2 separate regions of the Homo sapiens genome follow, and region 1 is linked to region 2. A link means that fine-mapping ties the variant in region 2 to the expression of a gene that starts in the linked region. Tissue or cell type: prefrontal cortex. Region 2 holds a variant in brackets; the other region holds the start of a gene. All regions are shown on one strand. Distances are between the middles of the regions.

Region 1 (11,196 bases), 23 kb before region 2:
TGTAGTCCAAGAACATAAACTCTCCTAAGATACCATCCCAGTATAGAAGCCACATGCTGGACACAAGAGGATGCTGGAGACGCTCTTGAGTGAGGACCTCTTCTTTGGAAACGCCCCTATTGTCAAAAAAGACACCTCCTTATGCAGAGAGGGGGGTCAACAATTCTAGTCACAATATTAGTTGAGCATAATTTAACTCAAGAGGAAATAATTCATTCTAATAAAAAAGTAGCTTTTCTGTTTGGGGGAGGGAACAGAGAACCACAAATCCACGTCACCCTCTTATTCAGAGTGTGCTGCTATCTTCATAGACAGCCACTGCATTCAGAGGTGCTACGGAATCGGACTGAAGGAAGACAGTCACTACCAAGCTGTTAATCCTTTCTAAGTAATGGCAACCTGAAGAGGTATTAGCATAAGAATTCTAACAAATATTACTAGTAATTAAATAAAGGAAAGAATGACTAAAATATATTAAGAGCTGTATCTTTAAAGGTAAGTGGCCTTTATAAGTTACCTCCTAAATGGTCTTTTTAAATAATCAGAGTCGTGTGGGTTTTTTTAAGTCTCTACATAGAAAACTATAACTTGATTTTCAGTCTTATAAACAAAGCAAGCATGCCTATAAAATAGAGCTCTTAGTACATTTTCTTTTTTCCATCAGTATAAGCAACTGTATACAATATTTGGAATGTCTTGGATTAAATTTAAAAACTGATACTCTGGTTCTCCTGCAGGGATTGAAAATACATATATTTAAAAGTGAAAAAATTTACAAGTTAATTTTCTTCTGTACTTACCCAATTAAAATAAATGACAAAATTTTCCCTTTAGTCTGCTTTTCCTGTCACACACCCTGCTACATACAGAAAATGCTCAAAGGGCCATCGCTCATTATAAAAGATATTCAATTTCCTATTTTCTCCTCTTTCTCTCTCTTTCTCTTACTCCCCTCCCTTCCTCTTTTCCTTTCTTCCTCCCTTCCTCCTTCCCTTATCTTTTTTTGGTTTTGAGGCAGACACCAAGTAGACCCAGTTATAAAATAGCTGGTTATTATTAATATGATCCCATCCCAGGGCAACCAAATCACATTATCCCCACCTCTCCCCAACTACTCTAACAGAAGTAAAAACTACTCCACAATATTTGAGAATATACTATCAACAAACGCAATTTTTGTATCCCATGACTTTTATATAATTATATAAATGATACAATTTTATATCATTAAATGCAAGTGTGAATACAGGCACTATGTCTTCCCCAAGGTATTTTCAGAAGGTATCACTGTGTTTTTGCATGCTCTAGTACAAACTACAGAACTATGAATGTGGGTCAAATAGTAAGTAATAATAGTAATAAATGCCACATCTCCATAAGTAATGATTGACTCCTAAACTTACAAAAAAGAATATAAGCATAGTTTAGTGTTATGCTACATTTCACTCCACACATGCTCCTAAACATATAAGAATTACCTATTTTCTGAAGGAAGTCAAGGAACTCGGTTAAGACTGCCACCTATCACAAACTTGTTTGAAAAGTCAGTGCTACCCGATCCTAGCTCTTCCAAGATTCCAAGAAAGTTATCAACAGGGAAGTAAAATCTCATTATTATTATTATTATTACATGATATGGTTTCAGTCATCCACTCATATGACTTATGAGTTCATTCTATGATACTGACATTAATTTGCAGTGACTAATTTAAAATAGAAAGACATGGGTTTGAGTAGATCACTATTTTTAGTAAATTCCATGTAGCTGTTCTAGCTAGGCAATCACCTGGGTTATTTAACCAAAACTACAGAAAATTTTATTGCAATTCCTTCAAAAGAATGAATCCTATTGTAGTTTCAGTGTACGAAACATCTGTGTATCTCAGGGCATGTTTCTGCATTTTGATAGTTTATACTCTAGCACTTGTGTAAAATAACATTTTGAAAATGGTAATTTAACTGCATTATTTTAGCATTTAAAACTATTTTAAATGGATGTCTTAAGCTGGAAAAACACCAATCCGATGCCAAGAATCTATCATTACAGAGAATAAAATAAAGATACATAGTTCTTATCAAGTTTTTTTCCTTCCTGAAAGTAAAGAGTAATGCCATTGTGGGAAGTTTACACGCACTAGAAAGCAGTTACATCTTTCTTTAGAAATCATATATACTACGGATATACGTTGATATATATGGATATATATTGATATATATGGATATACTGTGGATATATTAGAATGCTAATCTATATTAATCTTATATTCTGTGCTCCTAATCTTTTATTTGATTGGGACAACATGTATCACAATGCAATATGAACCAAAGCCCAAGAAAATCTTAAAGTGGTCTTTCAGAAGAGACTTAAAAGCTGATAAAACCAAAGATGACCAGGTACAGATAAGAAACAAATGCAAATATCACAGTGGGGATGATAACGTTCACCATCTCTTCACATTTCCATTAAGGAATTACCTCCACATGCATTATCTTTCATTGTCAGGATTACACCATCTTATGAAATAAAGTTATAACACATGCACAAGAGGTCCATCCAAAATTCTAAGAAATCTCTGAAAAACTGAACTAGAATGTTAATACAAACAAAAAAGGAAATAACCTAGATGGATTACAGTTACTATTAATGACTCAAAAGGCCATAAAATCCTTTGATGGGCAAGAAAATATGCCTTGAGGCATATTGCATTTTGGGAAAATAGGCTATTTGAGTTGAATATATGTTAATGAATTGCTTCCTCATGTTTTATATAATTCTTAGAAAAAGTTCAAATTAGGTCCCCAATAGGATGTTTTAATTATGAGAAGCAATCTTTTGAAACTCATACAAGCCATCACACTCGTTTGGAAACAAATGACTTTTCAAGATGGAGAAGTATCACTATCAATCACCAACAAGTTAATTCTACATAATAAGGCAGGTTTGGATGCAAACTGATCCATTGTGGAATGCTGTATCTAAAATTGATTACAACAGCACTCAAAATGAACGCAGCCCTCCAAACCACTTCTTTGCTCAGAAACATTAATCTCAATTAGAAGGAGAGCTTCATAATGGTCATGCTTGGTATAAAAAAGTATAAAATAAATCAGGTTTTATAAGACACAACAATTAGTTTTCAGACTAAGGTTTATTTTATTTTATTTTATTTTGAAGCACAAAATTTCCATCAGGTCTGTTAAACCAGCTGATGTTTCCAAAAATAAGTTTTAAATGTATTCTAAAAGAAGCTTACGTAAAATAATTTTTAAAACTTAGTTGTCGAAACTTTTAAATAACGTAATATTGTGTTATCTTTTCAACAGACTTTACTCCGAATGCATGTGTTCAATTTTCCTACGGGCTATCATTCCACTTTACAAGGCAACTATGAACACAACACTAACTTCAACTAGAAATTTAAAGGAATATGTAATTGGTTATGGACCACGGTAAACGTTTGGTGGCAAACTATTATATTCTTTGCTCATATTCTCAACCTAAGTAAAAAAAAGTATGCCCTCGAAGTCCAAACGGATATCTGACTATCAAACGAAACACAGGGTAGATGAGCAATGTGTAATTCAACATGCTTAACAGGTTGCACAGCTTCCAGAAAAGGGCAGACAATTCATCACAGCTGCTGAACACACTGATTCAAATAAATATAAAACTTGGATGATATTCAACCACCATCCAGAAATCAAATTTTTACAGGGTAAAATAAAGTTTAATAAAAAGGAGGCACATGCATTTATTTAAATAACCAATATTAATAAACTAATAAACTTGGCTTTGTTGGGCTTTCATATCAGACAATGACCATGCTCTGAACTTATTCCCTAGTATCCCTATAGGTAGGATAAACTTCAGCATCTCCAAACATACATTAACAGCTATTGCAAAGACATCATTTTTTGTACACCGAGCCTAACGGTGATTCAGTATTTCTGACAGGTCACTCTACTCACAACGATAGCCACGCGCTTCTTCCTGCTATCTTCTTTGCTTGACTCTTTACAAACAGAATAATTACTCTTGGCTCCCAGAAGCAAAGCTAAGAAAGAGTAGCTTGAACTTACTAACTGGATCATTATTGTTTAGCTAGGTTTCCTTTCTGAATAAGTTTAAAAGTTTTCACTCTCTTTAGGAGCTTTTTTCTATTCAAAGATAAGCATCCTTATCTTTCTTTGTCTTCACCCTAATAAGGCAGGTTCCCTTTTCTAACCAAAAGACTGATGACACGCCTACAGAATCATAGTAAGAAAAGCCTCAATAATTTACCTAAAACATCTTTCTAGAAAATAAACACAGCCATGCAAAATAATCCCGTTTGGAGGAATAACTAGTCACAATTCCATAAATCTATCTGCTTTATTCCCAATAATCAAGTAATCCTCATTAGGGTGCATAGGTTGCTAACATAAAGCTATTGGCACAGGGGGTTCACAGAGTTTTCCAAATATATAAACGTTAGCATGGTGATTAGTACAACTACATTTTTTATAAAAACTGTGCAGTGCATGTAAAATGTGTGTTTGATTTGAACTACTTTTTCTAACTATTCTTTTCTAAGTTATTTAACATAAGATATATTTGTTTACTATTAGAAAAAAATCTTTGATTAAGAGGAATAATAAAATTCGTGTAAGAAAAAAAGAACAAGATTGTTAAGGGAAATGCAACAGGAAGAGATACAGACAATCCTGAAATACACAATAGAATAACTAAACTCATTATAAACTCCTATCTTTGAAGAATTTAGGAATAATTTGTGAATGCCATGACATTTTAAAGTGGGATTAGCAAGTCTTATTACTGAACTAACCTCTCACTCTTAGATCAAGAATTAAATATTTACTCTGCATTTAGAATTACAAATCCAAACTTTCAGGGCTCATACAAGAATTTTATATATTAAGATATACATGCTCGAAGTTTTAGATAATTAAAAGTGTATTAAGGAATGCACAAAGCAAGATTGTTGAATTTATAAAATCTTGTTTTAATTGAAATATTAAAATAGATAATTATTATTACACAGTTGCTCTTAATTCTAAAGTCAGTCTGTTCTCAATATATTAATACATAAAGACTACAAATACTTCTCCAAGTAGGCAGTGGGGAAAAAGGGATATGCGTCATTATTTTAAAGAAATTCACTAAGGGATCAAATCACCAAGTTCTGTTCAGTTACAATACCATCTTTTGGGATACTCTTCCAAGCTTTCCAGAGATGCCATATCCACCTTTTTTCTTTTGACAAGAGAAGGGAAAGGTAATGCCTCAACATATGTCTATTTCTAGTGAAAAGACCACCCAGTGGATTCTGCCAGAGTCTACCAATGTTTGACAAAATACATTGTCAGAAGATAAGAAATAGAGCATGATGAAGAGACAGTCCTGTTCTCGGGCATCCCAGCCGTCTGGGGCCCTGTAAAAAGTCTAGGACAGCTCTCAGCCTTTCATTTCCATTGCACCTCCTCACACGTACCTGGAAACTTTTCTCTACCTCCAAATTACAGTGACTTGGGGAAACACACGTGTGTGATGTATTACACGGTACAAGTACTTGTTACCCTCTCTCTACAATAAAAATTAACAAGTTACCACTCCAGCTACCTTAAAGGTGAGGCAGTAAGAATGGAATCCAAGCTGCATAGTAAGATGCTCAGCAAAGATCAATCAGACACAACCCGCCTCAACCTAAAATACGTGAAGCTCTTTGTAATCGGTTGTAAAACACGAGAGGGACTTAGAATCTCAGTTGCAGGCTCATAAATTCGTAATTTTTGAAACGCCCAGCTCAGGATATTTTGTGTGTGTTTCCAACCCCATCCAGAGTTTCCCGATCAAGTTTCAGCCGTGATCCACCACTCCCCACGCTACCCCTCGCCCCGCACTCTCCCTCCTTCACTCCTTTTCAACTTGGCTCCCTGATCGCTGCAGAAGCCTTCTGTCCCCTGCCTGCCCCGGAAAGCGGTGACATCCCGGGGCTTTCCGCTCGCTGGAAGCCCCCCAGGATCCTGTTAAGACGCCCCCGCAGAAGACGCGGGGCCTCGCCACACATCGGGGGCCGAAGAGGACCTGGCGGGCTCCCCTCCCCGCCCCCACTGGGCGCCCAGCCTCCGGACTGCCTTCCTCAGGGACCCCGGGGCTCCCCAGTACGGGGGCGCGGCGCCTGGCTCCCCGGGCGAGAGGCGCCGGCGAAGTTCCCACCTGAGCCGGCGGCCGGAGGTGGCTGGCGCGAGGGCGGGGCGGGGACGGGGAGGCCGGACCGTGGAGAGAATCCGCGCGCTGAGAAGATGTCCCCGCGTCCGCCGCCTCCCGGGGCCACGCGCCGTCCCAGCTCGCGCCCGCCAGCTCCCGGCGCCGCGGCCCGGCACTAGGACCCCATAAAGGAAGGAGGGCGCGCCGGCGGCGGCGCCGCACTTACCGCGCTCGGCTCGCCCGCGCCGCCGGCTCGCTCCCCGGCAGCAGCCGCCGCGTCCGCCCGAGCCGCGCGCACACCGCGCCGGGCCAAATTCAAAGGAGCCGGGCGCGGGGGAGGGGGGCCCCGCCGAGGGAGCGGGGAGCGGGCGCCGGCGGGGCGGGGGCGGGGAGGGGGCGCGAGTGTTACAACTTCCTTCCCTGCCCGCCCCCGGCCGCGCGGCCCGGGGACGCGGGAGGGGAGGGCGCCCGCGCGCCAATGAGTTCACTTTCTTTCTCTCCCCCGCGCTCCCCCTCTCCCCGCCCGCCGGCCCCTCCAGCCTCCTCCAAGGCGGCGGACCAGGCCGGGCCGGAGTTTTCGGGGTTCAGCCCGCGAGCGGGAGGACCGGGGAGGCGAGGGAGGAGGAAGGCGAGAAGGGCCAGGTGAGGAGGCCCGCGGGACGCCCGGCCAGGGAGCGGCATCCAGGACCGTAATTGTGCGGCGGGGGACGCGCCGGGCCGAGTGTGCCCGAGCCCGGGCGCGTACACGTGTCCGTGTGTGTGTGTGTGTGTGTGTGTGCGGGAGTGTGCGAGGGAGAGGAGGAGAGGAGAGGAGCCTACCATGCGCTTCCCCCGGTGCAGATCGCGGGAGAGCCCAATCACGGGGCGAGCTGGACCTGGCTGTGATCATTTATAATCCTTGACTCCTCCGCTCCGCCACTTGTCAAGATGACAGGTACTTTATTTCTTCTTCTTCTTTATTCAAAAAAAGAGATTCCCCGTTTACTGCCTTTTTCTGTCAAATGGGATTTGCCGGACTGAACCACGTTCGCCGCCCCTCCCTCCTTCCCTCCTCCCGGCCGCGTCGGGTTCGGGAAAGCACCGAGGCTCCCATGCTGTGACCAATCAGTGCCTTTACTACTCTCGCCGTGATTTAGGGGTCATCCGTGAATAACACTTCACGCTGATGAATGGCTCTTGCCGGCTTTCGGCTCTGATGAGGGGTCTGCCCGCCGCCGATTGAAAACACTAATGAACTTACTGCGCCATTTGAAATTCACACGCACCAACAAAATGGGGGTACGTGCGTGGGGGTCTGTCCTTTTCTGCTGCGGGTGGCGGGGAGGCGGCCCTGGGGGAGGGGGCGGGTAATTGCTTTGGACTTAAGTGGAAACACTTCTCTGTGTAATCAAACCTCTAACCTTCTTAGAAAACTACTTTTCTTGATCTTCCGTAGGGTGGGCATTTCAGGTCAGCTGAGTCACCCGAGGAGGTGGCAGTGCAAGACACTGCCGGGAAGACGGATTCCGAGGCAGAAGGGTGTAATTAAGGATTTCCACCCCCGGTAGGCGGCCCGTCCTTTGCAGAGCCTCTGAAAATGACCCGCGCCTTCCTTTCCACAGTGTTCTTTCGTCCGAGACCGAAAAGCGCAAATGACCTTTGGACAGGGAAGGGAGGCAGTAAACACTCAGACTTCCTTACCAGCCCCTGGTGGGCACTGCAGCAGAACAATTGTCTGCCCCCCAGGTTCAAGCACCTAGGCCTCCGCCCCGCATCACCTGGCCAGGGGCGGACCCGGGAGTCCTCCGAAGGCTCCACTCCCCACTTTTACTACTCTTCTTTCCTCTCCATTCTCCCCTCAGATTAGCGGCCGGACACTGTCCCTGCCTCGATTTTGTTTGCTGTGGGAGGGAAAAAAAAAGTTTGCTGCTCCTCCCAAGACACTGGCCACTTTCTACTCACTGAAGTTCCCACCGCAGCGCTGGCTCCCGGCTCCCTAGCTCCCGCCCCCTGTCTGCAGGAAAGCCCTCCCCCGGAGCTTCCGAAACTGCTGGAGGTTCCAGAGTTTTGTAGCTCCGAATGGGCGACCTGAGCCGAACCGCTCTCTGGCTGGGTGGTCGGCGGGATCCTTCAGGCTCCTTTCGGGTCCGGGACGGGGCGGCGGCAGAGGTGGGGCGTGCGTGCTTGGGGCTGCCGAGTGAGTGCGGCTCCCTGGTGCGCGCCCGAGCATCTCCCCGCCCTCTCCTGGGACCAGCAGTCTGCCCGTGGAGGGCTAGGAGCCCGCGACCAGGCCTGCCCCGGCCGTCGCCAACCTGTCCTTGGAAGCGTGGCGGAGACTGGTGCGCTCTCAGCCTCGTCGCGCCAGCCGCCTCGCGCCACCCTCCACTTTCAGCTTCAGAGCAGAGGATTCCGCCGACCTCCACCTGTACCTGTACTCGGCCGTTAGGAAATCCACTTGCATTTTTAACTACCGTGCAGAACCAGAAACAGATCGAGCACTGGGAGAACAAGGACGACGCCTCCTAGGAAAGCCTGAACCTTTATGTTAGTTTATCCAAAGTTTGGGCTAGAAGTGAGGAGAATCCCTAAACTCGAGGTGGTGTGCCCAGACCCACAGCCCGTGTTCCCGAAGTTGCTAAGTGCCCGAGCGCAGCGCGTTAAGTAGAGAAGTCTTGGTAGTAAGCGAACCCGACCCGGCTCTCGGGGCGCTAGTGACGGAAAGCAGCACGCATATCTTTGCGGGAAGAATCTAGAGTCGCCCTGGGATAGATCCATCTCCTTCTGCCACTGAATTTCACACTTGAAAAAGATAAGGTCATGGGGGCGGATGAATGATATCCCTCACTCATTTAGCCATTCTTATTATTATATAAAAAAAAGGCTTGTCAATTATGAAGGTGTGTCCCAGATATTACATGAAGATCATGCAAACTACTTGAAATTTGAATCCGGACATGATCGTAAGGAAACTCTTTCATAAAGCACTTTTGTGGCCTAGTTCCCACACACACACAAAAGTATTAGGTCTTTAAAACTTTTCCAAGTAGTAAGTGAGACTCCCTCTTACTGTCTACGAATACACAATAAAGAGATGAGACACTGCCCCAATCCTAAAGAGGCCAGAACTGAAGTGCTACATTGTGTGAGTTAGGGGATGCTTCTTTTTTCCAGCTCTTTTTTCTAGAATCCTCATTACAGCTAACGCTGGTAATAAAGGTAGGAAAACAATAGAACTCATAAAACTTAGAAATGGTAATAAATCTTGGCTCCTGTCTCTAGCCCAGTTCCTTCTTACATGAGATTCAAAGTTTTTCAGTATGCAATGCTGAACGTTCACACTATGGTTGCAAAATAGAAAAAAATACTCTAGAACTCATTAATACGGCCCTGCGCACTCTATGCCAGGCGTCGCTGGTGGACAAAGCGCGCAGGGGTCCTCCTCTACGTCTGCCTGCGCCTGTAATCCAGGCAGCTTACGTGTGTTAAATTTGGGTCTCTCTCTGTCTCTCACACAAAGAAGTTCCATCATTTGAGGCCGTTAGGAAAAGCTGATGTTGTGCAGTGCCAAACTACCACACGCTTCCTCCTTCGGATGAATCCCTGGAAAGCAGAGAGGCAGCTCGCTACGTGACCATCATGCTTTTTACCTCACTGAGCTGTTGTCAAGAGAGGGCGGGGATGGCGGGCAGCTCACGTCGTGCCCTCCGCAGCAATAAAAACTGGAGCGGGAGAAGAAATGCAAGACATCGCTGTCTGTTTTGCAAGCCTCTGGCCGCTCTCAGCAAACTCTGCCCGGCGCGGCTGGTGACTTTGCGGTGTGAACGCAGCCGGTCGTGCTCGGGATAATGGGACCGAGCTGGCGGCATCGCCCTCCCGTGGGCCCCTCTTGCCACACAGATGCGCAGCTCTCCAAAAGGAAAATGTGGCCCAGCAACCCTCGCCTAGCCCTAGTCCTAGGAATGCATGCCTGGGGCCTTTGGAAGCCTCTCAAAGGGCTGGGGGGCGGGGGGGAGGGATATAATGGGCCGAACCTCTGGATTCATTTTGGGGAAGAGGAGACAGGTTCTTGCCCCACTACTGAGGCAAGGCCAACAGCACCCTGCCCTGCTGCTCCACCGCCTCCCCGCGGGTCAAGTCTCAGCCGAGTGTCGCTGCCCACCTGAAGGTGACACCTGTCCATTTTAGTCAGCATCACATGCGCCTTCCCTTTCTCCCCTTTGGGGTCTGTCCGTTTTCTCCTCCTGTCCTAAAGAGCCAGCTTGGAACTGAAGGGGCCGGGTAGCAGCTGTTTGTGCCTCTTGCCCGTGCAGACTCGAGGGTCTCCGCAGCCACTTCCTCCTTTAACACGCGAGGCTTTCAGGCGTGCAGAAGGGGACCGCCGGGTCAGGCAGGTATTAGGCTCTCCAAGGACACTTGTGGACATCACTGGAGTTTACCTATTGTTTGGACTTTATTACATCTGCTTTAGCAAACGGAGGCATGAGCGGCCTGTCTGCTGGGTTCAAACCCAGTTGCTGCCCCGGCTGCAACCTCTCCCACTCAAGAGACCCTAGGAACGATGAGGAACGGGGTAGAAATGACCAGGGGAGCCAAATCTCAGGTACCGAGACCTTCCAGCTCACCCCTCAGGCTCAGGAAAGCCAATAACCCACATATGCCCAAAAGGAGCTTATGTCTCAACTGAGAACAGCAAATAGGTGATGGGCCACTTTAGAACAGAGGCTAAAGGCTGGTAGCCACTGAGCAAAACCCAAATTCTAGGCACCTGAGGTGTTTCCCTTACACAAGTGCCTTCACAGGTAGCAAGCAATTAATCTGCAACAGTGAACAACACTAAAACTTAAATTTTACATGGAAGTCTCTCAAGTAGACAAAGTTATTATTGGGTGGGGTTTTCCCCCCACTGGCAAAAAAATAACTTATCCCTTGGCTGTTAGATTGAGGGAACTATAAAACAAATATTTTAATTCGATCACTGACAAAGTCATAAAATTCAATGACTGTTTGTA
Region 2 (11,196 bases):
TTAAAACTGTTGAAAAGAAACAAGTACAGGCCAGGCGCTGGTGGCTGAAGCCTGTAATCCCAGCATCAGTAGCTCATGTTTGTAATCCCAGCACTTTGGGAAGCTGTAGTGGGAGGATCACTTGAGTGCAGGAGTTAAAGACCAACCTGGGCAACATAGCAAGACCCGTCTCTTAAAAAAGTAAAAAATAAGAAAAGAAAGAAAGAAACAAGTACAAAACTCAAATTTTATTAATAGTTCATATGCTAATAGCATAACTACAAGAAGATACTCAAAAAAAATGCCTACATAGAAAAAAAAAGGATAAGATAACATCCATTAAAATTGGAAAATGGATTACCATATAAAATAGGGTTTCTGCGTTTTTTTCCACAGATTTTACATAAAATATTTTATCCTTTTGACCAAAACAACAAAAAAAGTGAAACATCATTAATAATATTATTTGGTAATGTGGACCAATGAACTATATTATAAAGTAGTACTATAATACTAAACAAACCTATTAAACTTCCTATAAAGAAATTTTTTTTCACCTAAAGCAAATATTCATTTAATAACTTTTTGATTTATTTATTATACACATCCTGCTGAATTTATATTTAATTCTCTTAATGTCTAAATTTGATCATCACAGTAAAATATACTTTAGCAAAAGAAAATTGACAAATGAAAACAAGAATATTATGACTTTTTTATCTCAAGTTTATATACTTTTCTGAATATGCTAGTTTGCATGCTATATAGACTATACATTGAAAACAAAATTGCAAAACCATTGCTTGCTTGATAACTCCATTTTTGAAAAAGAGTCTTTCAGTAAACTTTGTTCTGCTCCAAGAGAACAGAGCTCCTTTTAAAAATGTAGCAAATAGTTTCAGCATGATCTTTTCCTTTATGTTTTATTTAAAATGTTAATGGAGTAAATCCACAATTCACATAATTTATTTTGAAATACTATTGTTCAGAATAATGCATCATGAGAACAGTGATATACAGGCAAGTTCCCTTAAAGAACATGCATCAGTTCAGTTCCCTTTTGAAGCATATTGCAAATGCCCTCTAACAGGGCACAGCAACATTACATAAATCATCTTATATGAAAAATTAACATGACATCAAATATTTATAAATATTAATGTGTATGTTAATATAACCAAAGCTGTAACAAACAATCGTAACCTTGCCAAGTTACCTAGGACAGGCGCTGCTGATAATCATATCCATTATCTCTGGAGGAACGTACAATTATGAAAGTTATACACAGGATGCTATGTTTTTAGCTGCTTTTAAATTTATCCATTAGATGTCTGCCTTACATATAATATTAACCCTTTGCACATACATTCTTAAGAAATATGTAGAAGGCAGCTCATGTGGATAAATACTTTAAAAATCATTTTTATTTAATCATTTACCTGGAAAGTCCCTATATTTTAACATAACTTTATCATAATTGCAGTATATGATGTCCTACAGAAAGCTCACTTGGGGTTGATCTCATTAACCTGTGTTAAATACCACATATGCATTTATACATATGCATGCTACGCCTTAAGAAGGCCACACTTTGCAAAGGTAGATTGGTGATTTGTGGCTATGCAATGTGATGTACTATGCTAGCTCCAGTCCCTCAGGAAAGTCTCTGTGTTGAGGATGGGGTGGGGATGGGGAGTTCTTGGGCTTGCCTGGGCTCAGTAGGGTCAAGTCCATAGTTAAAATTTTTAGTGACTCACAGACCATAGGCATAGTCAGCCAGACAAAGTTTTGCTTGGGGTTCTTTTTTCACTTCAACTCTTTTCGTGGGTAGGGTGAATCAATGCATAGTACAGCAATGTGATTCAGACAGAAGGAGAAAAGGACCACCATTTTATACATGTGCATATAGGGCAGGATCAGGCAAGTCTGGCTCAGAGTCCAGTAGGTTTTCATGGGCACAGCAAGAAGATCACGTTAGAGGCTAAACATACTTCTGGATTGAAGATGTTTTGCTTCACCAAAAGAGAGTTCTTCAGTAAGCAGCATCTGAATCCAACTGTCTAAATCTGTGCCCAAGCCAGAGCATTCTTCATTCTAAAGCACCGAACTTCTGTTTTCAGCCTGACTCCTCGGTGTTACAAAGAGACTATTGTTTTGTGGAAATAGACTCTGATGACTGTGCTCTGCATCACTTACAGGTGGAAATGGGTTTAGCCCTAGGTGTGGTGGAGAAGTGTGACCTTGTTTTCACATTAAAGTTTTTTTGTACATCTCTGGGATCTACGATTGACTTTGGGGCATTTTGACTGTGGATAATAATGCTGATTCAACCTACTTACTCTCTGAAAAACTAAATATGGAATGAGTCATGTCTCGAGTGGTCAGAAAATGCCACTCGAAAATATCTTCCAATTAGAGATTCATTTTATTGCAAATCTGTACAAATAATATGGACTTTAGGTGGGATGTTCAGCCTGATACATATTTTAGTACTAATTGTTTTAATCAGATAAGAAACAAATACTTATCTGGTATCATTTTTAAGTGGGTCAGAATTTTGAATGGGATGCAAAGGAAAAGGGTGAATTAGAGTAGACATTACTTTGTTACTTGTTAATTTAAATATGTATTTTAGACATACGCTTTCAAATCCCCCAAATTGCATTGTCATATTTTGCTACCAGCAATTTTATGCTCTATATTATCATTTATTTTTGGCCCCTATGGACTCATTCCCATGATCCCAAGCATGTAGTTATTACTTCTATCTTTAAAAAAAAAAAAAAAGGCAAGGAAAGGGGGCTTTTCCTTGATTTCCCTATCAGCTACACCCTCTTTTTTGTTTTATTTTATTTTACTTTCTTTATTTTATTCACTGTTTTTTAGGAAAACTCCTTAAAGGGCTTGCCTATGCTGGATGTTTCTAAATGTTCTACTCTCATCTCCTTTAAATCCAATGAAAGTTTTATCATCACCATTCCACAGAAAACACTTTTGTCAAGATGGCCCAAGATCTCCATGCTGCTAAATCCCAACGTCAATTTTAAGCCTTCATTTTACGGTGGCATTTCCCCTTATCCACAGGGAATAAGTTTTAAGACCCCAGTAGATGCCTGAAACTGGGATTATTACCAAATCCTATGGATCCGGTGTTAAAGGAAGCACTTTGTGGTTTCTCTTTGGCAGATCTGCATTGCTAGCCTTACTACTTGCACACCTGGGGGCCATCATTAAGTAAAATAAGGGTGACTTGAACACCAGCACTGTGATACCACAACAGTTGATGTGATCATCGAGATGGAAGGGGCGAGTAGCACACACAGCGTGGATGCGCTGGGCAATGGGAAGATTCACCATCCCAGCAGGGGCGAGTAGCACACACAGCGTGGATGCGCTGGGCAATGGGAAGATTCACCATCCCAGCAGGGGCGAGTAGCACACACAGCGTGGATGCGCTGGGCAATGGGAAGATTCACCGTCCCAGCAGGGGCGAGTAGCACACACAGCGTGGATGCGCTGGGCAATGGGAAGATTCACCGTCCCAGCAGGGGCGAGTAGCACACACAGCGTGGATGCGCTGGGCAATGGGAAGATTCACCATCCCAGCAGGGGCGAGTAGCACACACAGCGTGGATGCGCTGGGCAATGGGAAGATTCACCGTCCCAGCTGGACAGTGAGATTTCATCCCTCCCCTCAGACCAGCGTGCAATTTAAAACTCATGAACTGTTTATTTCTGGAACTTTCTATGTAATATATTCAGACTGTAGTTGACTGCAGTTGAACTCAAACATCAGGAAGTGAAACTGCAAAAAAGTGGGAAGGGACTTATCGTACTTGAACCCATCAGGTCACAGCTTCTCACTTTCTCCGCCTGCACACTTTCCTTCATTTGGCTTTCTGGACACCGTTCTCTCCTGATTGTTCTACTATACTGGCCACGCCTTTTCAGCCTCCTTCACTGATTCTTATTCCCACAGTTTTAATGTTGCCCCAGGGCTCAGCCTTTGTTCTTTCTTAATCTTTCTAGACTCACTCCCTTGGTGAACAACACTGTAGTCTCGAGGCTTTAAGTGCAGGTTATATGCTGACATCTCCTATACTTACATTTCCAGTTCAGATCTCTCTTTCCCTTCTTAACTTCAGATTCACATATGAAATTATCTACTCGACATTTCCACTAGATTGTGTAAACGGGTAGTTTCAGCAGGGTGCTGTGGCTCACGCCTGTAATCCCAGCACTTTGGGAGGCCAAGGTGGGTGGGGCACCTGAGGTAAGGAGTTTGAGACCAGCCTGACCAATATGGTGAAACCCCATCTCTACTAAAAATACAAAAATTAGCTGGGCATGGTGGCACGTGCCTGTAGTCCCAGCTACTCGGGAGGCTGAGATAGGAGAATTGCTTGAACCCAGGAGGCAGAGGTTGCAGTGCACCGAGATCACGCCATTGCACTCCAGCCTGGATAACGGAGTGAGACTCCATCTCAAAATAAATTAAAAAGTAAATAAATAAATAAACAAATAAATGGGTAGTTTCAAATAAAAACTCCTGAACTCTAAAATTAACTCCTTCTGCAGTCTTTCCCATCTCAGTCAATGGCAGCACTGACACTTCAAGTTATTCCAGACAAAACCCTTGGTGGTCTTATTTGACTCCCCCACGCTGTCACTCTTCTCCTCTAATTCATCAGGAAATAGAGTTGTACTTGTTTTATTGTGCTTTGCAGAAATCACATATTTTACAAATTGAAGGTTTGTGGTAACCCTGAGTCGAGTAAGTCTAATGGTACCATTTTTCCAACAGCGTGTGCTCACTTCGTGTCTCTGTGTCACATTTGGTAATTATAGCAACATTTCACATTTTTCATGATTATTACATCTGTTATGGTGACCTGTGATCTTTGATGTTACTATTGTAATTGTTTTGGGGTGCCATGAGCCATGCCTATATAAGACTGCACACTTCATCAATAAATGTTGTGTGTGTTCTGATTACTCCACTGATTGGCTGCTTCCCCATCTCTCTCCCTCTCCTCAGGCCCATCTAGTCCCTGAGACAAGAATATTGTCTTTAGGCTAGTTATTAACACTGCAATGGTCTCTAAGTGTTCAAGTGAAAGGAAGAGTTGCACATCTCTCACTTACATCAAAAGCTAGAAATGATTAAGCTTAGTGAGGAAGGCGGGTACAAAGCAAAATAAGTCAAAAGCTAAGTCTCTTGTGCCAAAGTTAGTCAAGTTAAGAATAAAAAGGGAAAGTTCTTAAAGGAAATATAAAGTGCGACTCCAGTGAAAACTCATGAATGATAAAAAAGTGAAACAGCTTCACTGCTGATACAGAGAATGTTGTAGTGGTCTGGATAGGAAAAAACAAACAAAAAACAAACAACAACAACAACAATAACAACAAAACAGCCATGAAATTCCCTTAAGCCAAAGCCTAGTCCCGAGCAAGGCCATACATTTCTTCAATTCTAAGAAGGCTGAGAGAGACGAGGAAATTGCAGAAGAAAAATCTGAAGCTAGCAGAGGTTGGTTCAAGAAGTTGGTTTAAGGAAAGAAGCCACTTCCATGACATAGAAGTACCAGGTGAAACAGCAAGTGCTGACGGAGAAGCTGCAACAAGTTATCCACAAGATCTAGCTGAGGTCATTGATGAAGACTACACTAAAAAACAGATTTTCAATGTAGATGAAAACAGCTTTGCATGGGAAGATGATGCCACCTCAGACTTTCATAGCTAGAGACAAGTCAGTGCCTGGCTTTGAAGCTTCAGAGGACAGGCTGAGTCTCTTTTAACTAGCTAATGTAGCTAGTTACTTGAAGTTGAAGCCAATGCTCATTTATCATTCCAAAATTCCTAAGGCCCTTAAAATTATGCTAAATTTACTCTGCCTGTGTTCTGTAAAAGGAATAAAACCTGGATGACAGCACATCTGTTTACACCATGGTTTATTGGAAATTTTAAGACCACCGTTGAGACCTACTGCTCAGAAAAAAATGATGCCTTTCAAAATATGACTGTTCACTGATAACATACCTGGTCACCCAAGAGCTCTGATGGAGATGCGCAGATATTCACACCTGCTAATACCACATCCATTCTGCAGTCCATCAGTCAAGGAGTAATTTCAACTTTCAAGTCTTATTATTTAAGAAATACATTTTGCAAGACTGTCACTGCCATAGATTTTTATTCTCTGATGGATCTGGACAAAGTCAGTTGAAAACCTTCTGGAAAAGGTTTGCCATTCTAGATCCAATTAAGAACATTTGAGATTCATGGGAGGAGGTCAACATTAACAGGAGTTTGAAAGAAGTTGATTCCAACCCTCATGGATGACTTTGAGCATTTCAAGACTTCAGTGGAGTAAGTTGCTGCAGACATAGTAGAAATTAAAGAGAA[A/G]TAGAAGTGGAGGCTGAAGATGAGTCTGCATTTCTGCAATCTCATGATCAAACTTGAACAGATAAGGAGTTGCTTCTTATGGAAGAGCAAAGAAAGTGGTTTCTTGAGAGGGAAACTACTCCTGGTGAAGATGTTGTGAACATTGTCAAAATGACAATAAAGGATTTACAATATTCCATACACTTAGTTGATAAAGCAGTGGAAAGGTTTGAGAGGATTGACTCCAATTTTGAAAGAAGCTCTACTGTAGGTAAAATGCTATCAAATAGCATCACACACTATGGAGAAATCTCTTGTGAAAGGAAGACGTAATCAATGGGGCAACTTCACTGTTGTCTTATTTTAATAAATTGCCACAATCACCCCAACCTTCTGCACCTACCACCCTGGTTAATCAGTAGCCATGAACACTGACGCAAGATACTCCATCAGCAAAAATATTATGGCTTGCTGAAGGCTCCAATGATCTTTAGAATTTTTTAATGATAAAATTTAAAACTTAAGGTATGTACATTGTTTTTTAGACATAATGCTATTAAATGTTTAATAGTATAGTGTAAACATAACTTTTATATGCACTGGGAGACCAAAAGAAACCATGTGACTCACGTTATTGTGATATTAGCTTTATGGCAGTGGTCTTTATTGAAGTGGTCTTTAGCTCTACATTAAAAGCATATCCAGAGTCTAACCTAGTCTTACCACTTCCATAGGTATTATCCTTAGCCACCAACGTTATTTTGCCTATGTTATTGCAATAGCCCAACTACTCTCATTATATCTACACCTGACTCCTTATTGTCTATATTCTCAATCCAGAAGCCAGAGTGCACCTTTTAAAATGCGAGTCAGAGGCCAGGCGGGGTGGCTCACATCTGTAATCCCAGCACTTTGGGAGGCCGAGTTGGGCGGATCACTTGAGGTCAGTAGTTCGAGACCAGCCTGGCCAACATGGTGAAAACCCGTCTCCACTAAAAATACAGAAGTTAGCCGGGTGTCGTGTGGGCGCCTGTAATCCCAGCTACTCGGGAGGCTGAGCCAGGGTAATCACTTGAACCCGGAGGGCGGAGGTTGCAGTGAGCCAAGATCATGCCACTGCACTCCAGACTGGGCAACAGAGTGAGACTGCATCTCAAAAAAATAAATAATAAATAAAAACAAAATGGAAGTCAGAACATGGCATGCCTTTGCTCAAAATCCTACAATGCGTATACAAGTCAGTCAGAGAGAAAGCCATGGTCCTATAATATCTTACTAGGTCTTGCATGATCTGATCCTCTGTTACCCCTTTGACCTCAACTTCTAGAACCTTCCTCCATTTTTATAACACCTCAGGAATCCTGGTCTGCTTGCTGTCCCTTGAACACATCAGGCATACTTGGTACCGGACACTGGCTATTCACTTGCTCAGAACAGTTTTGATGCACTCCCTCATTTCTTTTTAGCACTTCCTTGAAGTCTTTATTCAAATTTCCTTTTCTCAAGGAAGTTTCATTTGACTACCTTTTTTAAAGTTGCAAATGACCCTTCTTCCAACCACCAGTACTGATCCCACATACCCTGCTTTGTCACAAATATATTTTCATAGCTCTTATTACTTTATAACATTCTAGATAATTTACCTATTTGTTACATATATGTATACATACAAGCAAATACATGTGTATATACACACACGTGTGTATATACACAACACACATATATATGTAGGTACATATGTGTAGTTGTGCATCGCTTGGCAGAGATACATTCTGAGAAATGCCTCCTTAGGTAATTTCATCATTGTGTAAACATCACAGAGAGCAATTACACAAACCTAGATAGTACAGCCTACTATACATCAGGGCTATATGGTAGGGCCTATGGCTCCTAGGCTACAAACCTGTACAGCATGTGACTGTACTAAGTACTGTAGGCAGTTGTAACACAATGGTAAGGAATTGTGTGTCTAAGAACATCAAAACATAGAAAGGTTCAGTGCCTGAACCTCTCTTCAAGGGACTAACCAAAAGTGAAGAAGAGAAAGGAGTGTGTGTGTGTGTGTGTGTGTGTGTGCGCGCACGCACGCATGTGTGTATTTGTGTGGTAATGAAAAAACTGTCAGTGGACTCACAATTTGTAGATTATGTTTATCTAAAAACTATGGGGAGGACAGGTGCAGTGGCTCACACCTCTAATCCCAGCACTTTGAGAGGCTGAGGCAGGAGGATCACTTGAGTCTAGGAGTTTGAGACCAGCTTAGGCAACACATGGAGACCATGTTTCTACAAAAAATTATAAAATTAGCCAGGCACGGTGGTATGTACTTGTAGTCCCAGTTACCTGGGGATCTGAGGTGGGAGCTTGAGCCCAGGAGTTTGAGGTTGCAGGGAGCCTTGGTCATGTCACTGCACTCCAGCCTGGATGACAGAGCAAGACCCTATCTAAAATGAAATAAACTGTGTGTTTTTTTCCATAGTTTCTGATCTGCCATTTAAGGAGCTTAGAAGTCTCCACTCTGTCCTAAGAACAAGAAAAAAACACTGAATGAACTGGAAATCAACAACTTCTTTAGGTCCCTCAAAGAAGGGAGGTCACAGGGAAAGCTGCTGCCCCCAAATTTGGAGAGATAAATGGGCAGGTACATAGAATCACAATTCTCTGTATCCGTGGAGCAGAAACCCACCTGCAGAAACCTCTGCTGGAACCAGTGCCAGGGAGGTAAACCGGAACCGTAATTGATGAATTGCTGAAGGCTCCGTGTGGCCAAGTCTGAGAGATAAAAACTCCACGGAGACTCAGTCGAGGGGCCTTCACACTTTTGTGAGTTTTAAGAGCTCTACCAGTTCTTCCTGGTGTATATAGGAGAAATATTTCTTCGTGCTTCGGCAGGGAGAGAGGAAAAGGAGCCATTTCGAAATACATCGGAGCATTTTGTTTTTCTTAACAAGTTCCGCCCTCAGGAGAAACTTTTACCAGATCCTAACTTGCTGGAATTTTGTCAGAGCCTAATCTACCTGGGGGGAGGGAAATACTCATCTCTAGCCCCTTCCAGCCATTCTCTCCCACCCAAGGGAGGGAGGGCTGAGAAGCAATGGTGACAACAGTTCCAGTCCAAAGGCACAGACTTACTGAAAGACTGAGACCCTGTCATGGGACTACGGAATGCTTCCTCTCCCTTGACACCTGACCACCACATCGCTAATGGCCTATTTTTTTGCAGTTCTTTTGTACCCAGAACATTATGTCTGCCTTTCAACAACCTACAGATCAAATCTCTCATGAGCACAGAGACAAAAATCTTCAACAAAGTATTAGCAAATCAAATCCAACAATGTATAAAAAGTATTATATACCACGGCCAAGTGGGGTTTATCCCAGGTATGTAAGGCTGGTTCGACAATCAATTAATGTAATCCATCACATTGACAAGCTAAAGAAGAAAATTTACATGACCATTTTCATAGATGCAGAAAAGACATCTGATAAAATCTAACACCTATTCATAATGAAAACCTCTCAGTAAACTAGGAACAGTGAGATATGTTCTCAATTCTTAAAAAATCTACAAAAAAAGGTGGAGGGGGGAGCTGGCACAGTTACAGGCTCATGCCTGTAATCCTAGCACTTTAGGAGGCCAAGAAGGGTGGGATGCTTGGGGCCAGGAGTTCAAGATCAACTTGGCCAACATAGCTAGACCCCCATCTCTAAAAAAATAAATAAAAAATAAAATTTAAAAATCTACAAAAAAACCCCTACAGCTAACATTATACTTCATAGTGAGAAACTTGAAGCTTTCCCACTAAGATCAGGAACAAAGCCAGGCTGTCCTGTCTTACCACTGCTTTTCATCATTGTACTTGAAGTACTAGCTAATTCAATAAGACAAGAAAGGCAAATAAAATGTATATGGATTGGGAATGAAGAAATAATACTGTCTCTGTTCGTGCATGACATGATTGTCTGCATAGGATCTGAAAGAACTGACAAAAAAACCTCCTGGAATTAATAAGTAATTAATGATAATCATCATAATTATAATTATTATAATTATAGCAAGTTTACAAGAAACAAGTTTAATATGCAAAAATTGATCACTTTTCTGTATAGCAGCAATTAACATCACATTAATTTGAAAATAAAAATGCACCATCATATGCATTAGCACGTAAAAAATGAAGTACTTAGGTTTAAAGCTACAAAACTCTGATTTAAGATATGAAACAAGAAATATGTAAATGGAGAGATTACTCATGGATGAGAAGAATCAATATTTTCAAGATGTCAGTTCTTCCCAACTTGATCTACAGATTCAATTCAACTGCAATTAAATCTTAGTAAGTTTTTTTGTGCATAACTTAGAGTTGACAAACTGATTCCAAAGTTTATATGGAAAAAAATATCCAGAATATTAAAGGAGAAGAGCAAAGTCAGAGGACTGATGCTATTCAACTTCAAGACTTACTAGAAAGCCACAATAATCAAGAAAGTGTGGTGTTGGTGAAAGAATAGACAAATATATCTATGGAACAGAATAGAAAGTCTAGAAACAAATCAATATAACTATAGCTTGCTGATCTTCAACAAAGGAGCAAAAGCAATACAGTGGAGCAAAGATATTCTTTTCAATAATGCTGGAACAACTGGACATCCACATACAAAAAAATAAGTCTAGACACACACCTCACAATGTTCACAAAAATTAACTCAAAATGGGTCAGAGACCCATATATAAAGTGTAAAACTATAAAACTGGAAGATAACACAAGAGAAAATCTCAGTGACCTTGGCTTTGGCAATGACTTATTAGATACAACACTAAACACATCATCC

What was found.
Region 1: it holds the start of TENM3-AS1, and the variant in region 2 is fine-mapped to the expression of TENM3-AS1 in prefrontal cortex (GTEx, PIP 0.97).

What each region holds. Positions count from the first base shown.
Region 1 is chr4:182,139,993-182,151,188 of GRCh38, reverse strand. It overlaps TENM3-AS1 (TENM3 antisense RNA 1), which reads left to right and starts at 6,674. Exons shown (of 5, transcript NR_125905.1): 1 at 6,674-6,850; 2 at 7,049-7,142; 3 at 7,345-7,486; 4 at 7,644-7,751; 5 at 9,705-11,196. It also overlaps a transcript of TENM3 not described here. RefSeq lists enhancers at 5,429-6,417, 9,372-10,178.
Region 2 is chr4:182,117,339-182,128,534 of GRCh38, reverse strand. It overlaps a transcript of TENM3 not described here. Among named protein-coding and RNA genes, the nearest start is that of TENM3-AS1, 22 kb to the left of the region's middle. The variant A/G (reference allele first, on the strand shown) is at 6,385.